Homo sapiens: one gene and its partner. The protein of the gene in region 2 purifies or fractionates together with the protein of the main gene of each other region. This does not show direct contact. Each region holds a gene or a part of one and is shown on either strand. Other genes may lie near its edges. The genes, in order: WDR20 and UGT1A9.

Evidence for each region.
Region 1: the proteins of UGT1A9 (region 2) and WDR20 purify together in Homo sapiens (affinity purification with mass spectrometry; one large-scale study listed by BioGRID and IntAct). This does not show direct contact.

What each region holds. Positions count from the first base shown.
Region 1 is NC_000014.9:102,142,676-102,146,500, forward strand, and holds part of WDR20 (WD repeat-containing protein 20), read left to right. Parts: intron 1-3,825. UniProt on the Homo sapiens protein: Regulator of deubiquitinating complexes. Activates deubiquitinating activity of complexes containing USP12. Anchors at the base of the ubiquitin-contacting loop of USP12 and remotely modulates the catalytic center of the enzyme.
Region 2 is NC_000002.12:233,674,683-233,678,507, reverse strand, and holds part of UGT1A9 (UDP-glucuronosyltransferase 1A9 precursor), read right to left. Parts: intron 1-3,825.

The DNA of each region.
Region 1 (3,825 bases), on a different chromosome or scaffold from region 2:
GAACTCCTGGCCTCAAGCGATCCTCCCACCTCAGCCTGCTAAAGTGCTGAGATTATAGGTGTGACCCACCATGCCCAGCGCACAGTTGGCTGTTTTGACTTTTTTTTTTTTTTTTTTTTTTTGGTCCTTTGAGGCGTGTAAAATTTTACAATAATTATTTGGATTATTCAGAAGATCTAATTTAGATGAGTAAATTCAACTTAAGTCTGTGTGTAAAATGAGTAGAAAATAGGTCTTTTAAAGAACTTAACTCATTAATTACGTGCTACCATTCCTGAGAGGAAACATGGGGTCCTGGGGAAATGGAGTAGGTGAGGAAGTAGTCTAACGTTCATGCTGAGGAGTGCAATCTTGATCCTTTTAAAAGGTTTACAGGTCAGTGTCTGGAGCTAGAAGGAACTTTAGAGTTTGTTATTTCACCCTCCTCAGAGCGAACCAAGGCCAGAGAGGGGATGCAAACCTGTTAGAATTTTTTCTCATAGTAAGGAAAATGAAGCACAGCTGAGTCTAAACCAGCTTAGAAGAGACTGATCCACCTTTTTGATCACAGGGATATTATATACTCCGAGCACTTCAGAATCTACCCCGGCATTTTGCCATATATTATTTTATTAAATTCTTGAGGTAGATTAAAACATCTTTTCACAATCGAGGAAGTTTAGAGTGGGGTTTCTTGTGTGAGGAGATGTAGTTTTGCAAATTTATTTAAAGACAGTATTAACATTGATTTAATACTGACACTAATCATTTTACCAGATTTGAGTGACTACTGTGATAGTAATAATACCAGGCAAGGTGATGTGAGGTATTCAGAGCTAAATAAGACCCTGTCCCTCTCCCCAAAAGACTTTCAACTACTAGCTTTTAAACATCTTTTTTTTTTTTTTGAGACAAAGTCTAGCTCTGTCACCCAGGGTGGAGTGCAGTGGCACAATCTCGGCTCACTGCAACCTCTGCCTCCTAGGTTCAAGCGATTCTCCTCCCTCAGCCTCCCGAGCAGCTGGGACTACAGGTGCGTACCACCACGCCCAGCTAATTTTTGTATTTTTGGTAGAGATGGGGTTTCATCATATTGGCCAGGCTGGTCTCGAACTCCTGACCTCGTGATCCACCCTCCTCGGCCTTCCAAAGTGCTGGGATTACAGGCGTGAGCCACTGCGCCCGGCCGTAAACATCTTTATTACATACTTTGTTCTCCTTTTTTAAAAAAAGAGATTGTGGTCGGGTGCAGTGGCTCATACCTGTAATCCCAGCACTTTGGGAGACTGAGGTGGGAGGATCGCTTGAGCCCAGGAGTTTGAGACCAGCCTGGATAATATATCAATACCCTGTGTCCACAAAAAAATAATAAAAAAAAAATTAGCTGGCCATGGTGGTATGTGCCTGTAGTCACAGCTACTTGGGAAGCGAGGAGGGCTCTTGAGCCGAAGAGTTAAGGTTACAGTGAGCTATGATTGTGCCACTGTACCCCAACCTGGGCAACAGAATGAGACCCTTTCTTTAAAACAACAAAAAAGGGGAGTGGGGCTATGCGCCATGGCTCACACCTGTAATCTCAGCGCTTTGGGAGGCCGAGGCAGGTAGATGACCTGAGGTCAGGAGTTTGAGACCAGCCTGGCCAACATGGTAAAACCCCATCTCTACTAAAAATACAAAATTAGCTGGGCGTGGTGGTGCTTGCCTATAGTCCCAGCTACTCGGGAGGCCGAGGCAGGAGAATCACTTGAACCCTGGAGTCGGAGGTTGCAGTGAGCCAAGATCATACCACCGCACTCCAGCCTGGGCGACAGAGCTAGACTCTGTCTCAAAAAAAAAAAAAAAAGATTGTTTTAGGATGTAGGATAAAAGATGCCAAAGGTAAGGTAGCTGGGCTTATTGGACCAATCCTCTCATTTTATGGACATCTGTTTTTACATAAATATGAATGGCCTCCATTCAGATCTCAGCTTAACCATCACTTCCTCAGGAAATTTTTCTTTGAATCCCCATGGTGTATCAGTTTTACCCTATTACATGTTTTTTTGTTTTGTTTTTTTTTTTGTTTTTGAGACAGAATCTTGCTCTGTTGCCCAGGCTGGAGTGCAGTGATGTGATCTTGGCTCACTGCAACCTCTGCCGCCCGGGCCCAAGTGATTCTTGGGCTACTCCCGAGTAGCTGGGATTACAGGCATGTGCCACCATGCCCAGCTCATTTTTGTATTTTAATAGAGACGGGGTTTTGCCATGTTGGCCAGGCTGGTCTTGAACTCCTGGCCTCAAGTGATTCACCTGCCTCAGCCTCCCAAAGCACTGGGATTACAGGCTCTATGTTCTTAGAGCATCTTGTGCTTTGCCTTCCTAGCACTTTTCTGAATTTGTAATTCTGTGTGATGATCCAACTGTGCCTTCTATAAAACAAAGCTCCCTTAGAATAGGGACATTATCTTTCCTGCTCTCCATCTTCTCAATGCACAGTGCAGTGTCCAGTTTAGAGTTAGGCCCTTGCTGTGTACTTGTTGAGTGAATGACTGAGTAAAGCCATGTCTGTCTATACCAAACTTGAAAGAGATCTTTAGAAGATGAAAAACCTATTCAGTTTTGGGCCCAAAAGTAACTTGGGTATTTTTTAATAGCTCATATCTTTTAAAAGACATTTAAAAATATTGCTAGTAGGTAAAAAATTTAACCTTCTTAAAATAGGGAAATCGTGTAAGAGACAATGAAGTAATAGTAAACAAATGACACAGATTACTTTTGATCTACTTCTGTCAAACCATGTCACCTACAAGATCCATGTACAACTTTTAAAAACTGTTCTCAGGCCAGGAGTGGTGGCTCATACCTATAATCCTAACACTTTTGGGAGGCCAAGGCGGGAGGATTGCAGGGGTCCAGCCTGGGCAACACAGTGAAACCTCGTGTGGGTTCGAGACCAGCCTGGACAACATAGTGAAACCCTGTCTCTACAAGGGTGGGCGTGGTGTCATGTGCCTCTAGTCCCACCTACTTGGAAGGCTGAGGTAGAAGGGTCACTTGAACTGGGGAGGTTGAGGCTGCAGTGAGCTGTAATCGTGCCACTGCACTCCAGCCCGGGCAAGAGAGTGAGAGCCTGTTTCAAAAAAACAAAACAATCAATAATAAACAAAAACTATACTCAGAATTACTTAACATTCAAGCCAAAGAACCTTCCTACCTTCCCACATCTTAAGATTCCAGGTCACAAATGTACTGCCCAGAGAAGTTACTGAAGTGGTAACTACAGGAGGTAGGAAGTAGATTTAGAGGATTCTAAGGTTTTTCCATCTCTAAAGCTTATATGATTCTGTACTCAGTTGTTTTTTTTTTTTTTAAATGGAAATGGATTCATCATTCTATTGGGGAGGTATCTTCATCTCTTTGATTCATTGCCTACTTGATTTGGAATTGAGAGGGGTGGGGTGTTTGGGAAAGCAAGCTGAAAACATTGTGATTTCTAGGTATTTATGCTGGAAGAGTTTTTTTGTTTGTTTGTTTGTTTGTTTGTTTTTGAGACGAAGTCTTGCTCTGTCGCCCAGGCTGGAGTGCAGTGGCTTGATCTTGGCTCACTGTGACCTCTGGCACCCGGGTTTTAAGCGATTCTCCTGCCTCAGCCTCCGAAGTAGCTGGGATTACAGGCACTTGCCACCATGCCCAGCTAATTTTTGTATATTTAGTAGAGACAGGGTTTCAGCATCTTGGCCAGGCTGGTCTTGAACTCCTGACCTTGTGATCCACCCGTCTCGGCCTCTCAAAGTGCTGGGATTACAGGTGTGAATCACCATGCCCGGCTAGAAGAGCTTTATGTTCATGATGCTGAGATGAAGTTGG
Region 2 (3,825 bases):
TGATGTATTTCCATAAGGTTACACCAAGTGCACCTGCCTCTCCTGCCTCCACTTCCACCTCCTCTACCTCTTCTGCCTCTGCCACCCTGAGACAGCAAAATCAACATCTACTCCTCCTCCTCCACAGCCCACTCAATGGAAGATGATGAGGATGGAGACCTTTATGATGAATGACTTCCTCTTATACATACTCAACTTTTATTTTAGATTCAGGAGTACATGTGCAGGTTACCTGAGTATATTGTGTGATGCTGATGTTTGGGGCATGATTGCTCCCATCACCCAAGTACTGAGCATAGTACCCAATAGTTTTTCAACTCTTGCAGCCTTTCCTCTCCCTTTTAGGAGTCCATAGTGTCTATTGTTGCCATCTTTATGCCCAAAAGTACCCACTATTTAGCTCCCATTTCTAAGTGAAAACAATGGTATTTGGTGTTCTGTGCCTGTATATATTCCCTTAGGGTAATGACCTCCAGCTGCATCCATGTTGTTACAAAGGACATGATTTCATTCTTTTTTTATGGCTGCATATTCCATGGAGTATGTGTTCCACATTTTCTTCATCTAAGCCACTGTTGACGGGCACCTAGGTTGATTTCATGTCTTTTCTATTCTGAATAGAGCTGCAATGAACATACCAGTGCATGTGTTTCTTGGTAAAACGATTTTTTTTACATATATCTAGTAATGGGATTGCTGGGTCGAATGACAGTTCTGTTTTAAGTTCTTTGCAAAATCTCCAAACTACTTCCCACAGGGGATGAACTAATTTGCATTCCCACCAAGAGGGTACAAGTGTTCCCTTTTCTCAGCAGCCTCACCAGCATCTATTATTTCTTGACTTTTTAATAACAGCCATTCTAACTGGTGTGAGATGATATCTTATTGTGGTTTTCATCTTCATTTTTCTGGTAACTAGTGATGTTGAGCATTTTTTCATATGTTACGTTTTTTAATAACATTTTCTTTTCTCTAGCTAGCTGCATTGTCATAATACAGGATATAATACTAATAACATACAAACTATGTGTTAATTGACTGTTTATGGTATTGGCAAGGCTTTTGGTAAACAGTTGGCTATTAGTAGTTAAGTTTTTGGAGAATCAAAAGTTCTATGCGGATTTTCTACTACACACGGGTTGGTCCCCTTCATTCCCACATTGTTCAGGGGTCAACTATACTAGCAATGAACACTTGAAAACTGGATTAAAAATACCACTTAAATAGCATCAAAAACATGATATACTTAGGGATATATCTGACAAAGGATGTGAAAGACTGTACATTGAAAACTACAGAGCACTGATGACGGACCTAAATAAAAAGATATGTTAATGAATTGGAAAACTCAAAATTGCTAAGATGTTGTTTCTCCCCAGTTGATCTATAAATAAAATACAATCCCAATCAAAATCCTAGCAGGATTTTTGCACACATTAATGAACTTATTTTAAAATGCATATGGTAATGCAAAAGACCTCCAATAGCAAAAGCAATTTGAAAAAAAAAATTAGAGGTAACACTACCTCATTTATAGATTATTACACAGCTATAGTAATCAAATATTTCACAAATAGATCAACAGAACAGAATACAAAGTCTAGAAATACGTGCACAGATGTATGAACAACCAAGTTTTTACAAAGGTACAAAGGCAATGCAGTGGAGAAAAGGTTCTGTTTTTCTACAGTTGAATATTCACACGCAAGAAAACAAGAAAAGACCTCTGTGTCTTCCTACCAAAAGTCTATAAACCCAGTTTTACCACGATGAAAACATCAGGCAAAACACACACTGACATTCTAGAGGAACATTCTACAGGACACCTGACTAGGACTGCTCGAAACTGCCCAAGTCACTAAAAACAAGGAGAGTCTGAGAAACCGTCACAGGCTGGAGGAGACAAAGGAGACATGATGACTACATTTCAGGTGGTATCACTGGGATCCCATAAAAGAACAGGGAAATTAAGTAAAAATTAATGAAATCTGAAGGAAACAGACTTTAGCTTTTAGCTCATCATTATGCGTCAATATTGGTGAATGAGTTGTGATGGATGTGCCATAGAAACATGAGATTTAACAATGGTGGAAACTGGACACAGGGTAGATGAAAATTCTCTAAACTATTTGTTGTAACCTTGCTATAATCCTATATTTATTCTACAATGAAGTATTTGTAAGAAAAGTCACTCAACAGACTGTGAGAAAATATTTGCAGGACCCCTGTGGATGCACACAGGGGTGATTCATCAGTGAATTCATCATCAACCATGCTTCTGATGAATCCATCGGTGAAGGATTCATCAGAGGCATGGTGGGAGGTGGCTGGATGATTTCCACAAATGGTTTTGGAGTCTGACGCTGGAGCTCAAGGACCCCAGGGTGGGTCTTCTGTTGAAAAGACTATTCTTTCCCATTTGAATGATCTTGACACACTTGTCAAACTTTGGCACCTAGTCAATTGGCCAAGGATGTATATGTATGGGTTTATTTCTGAATTCTCCATTCTATTCCATTGATCTGTATGGAAAGATGTTGTGTGAGACAATCCGGGGAAATTTTATTATGGACTGTAAATGAGATAATATTAAAGAATTTTTATTGTCTTAGATATGATAATGATATTGTGGCTATGTAACAAATTTTTCTTATTTTTTATATTAAATGAATTGTTCAGTGATGGAATGACATGCCAAGAATTTCTTTTTAAAAACATACAAATTTATTTTTAAAAGTTTTCTTTAAAAAGATAGAATAAAGGGATAGATGAATTAGTAGAGCAAAATAGTGAAAATTATTTAACCTAAGAATGGATAAGTGGGTGCTCATTACACTGAGTCTCTCCATTGTGTATGTTTGAAAACTTTGAAAATAAAAACTTGAAGTAAATAATTTTAGTGGGAGGCCTTAGTCTTGTCCACCAAAAGCTAACTTTGAATTTGGATCTTGGACTATAGCCAGAATCTTACAGCAAGGGGGGAAGCACAGATCTCTTATTTATCTGTAACCATATCCCACCCCCAGAGCCGCACCTGCCATGGATGGTATAGACAAAGCCTGAATTCTTTTCACCTAAAACCAGTCATTAATTCTGTTGGAACTCATCAAAAATTCAAAAAGACTAGGGACCTCCTCTTTTTGCCATTAAAACTATTTCAATGTTCTGCTGAATTATTTACACATCATTAATCAACACACACACATTAGAACGCTGGAATGTAAAAGAATGACCACACGGAATGATATAGTTTAGAAGTTTGTCCCCTCCAAATCTCACGTTGAAATTTGATCCCTGACATTGAAGACGGGGCCATCTGCCATCCTTGTTAAAGTATTTAATTACATCCCTGGATGTAATTCCCCTGGATAGCCTCAAGGAGATTTTGTTACAGGAGACCTTCAAGAAAATCCCCTATGCAGGGTCTGGGACACTGCACACAAACACACCTGCACATACACAAACACATACATGTGCAAACACATACTCCATCATCAAGTAATGCTTCCTTCTCATCAGACAGATAAGACACAGACTCTGAATCCTGTTTCCCAGCAAGATGTAACCAACTGCATGCTTTTCCCAGACACATCCTGGCATCTGAAACAAGGAAGGAGCAATATGAAGTGTCCATCCTTCTGTCAATGACAATTTACTTCTGTGGTTGGGCCATATCCAAGGCTCTTTGCCGGAAAGCCTTCTTTGAGTTCTGAATTCCTCTGTGAGAACTCCGCTGGCTTTACACGTATAGTCATAAATACATACATTAATATATGTAATCTTCCACAAGTATAAAAACTTTCATACATCCATATTCTTTAATAG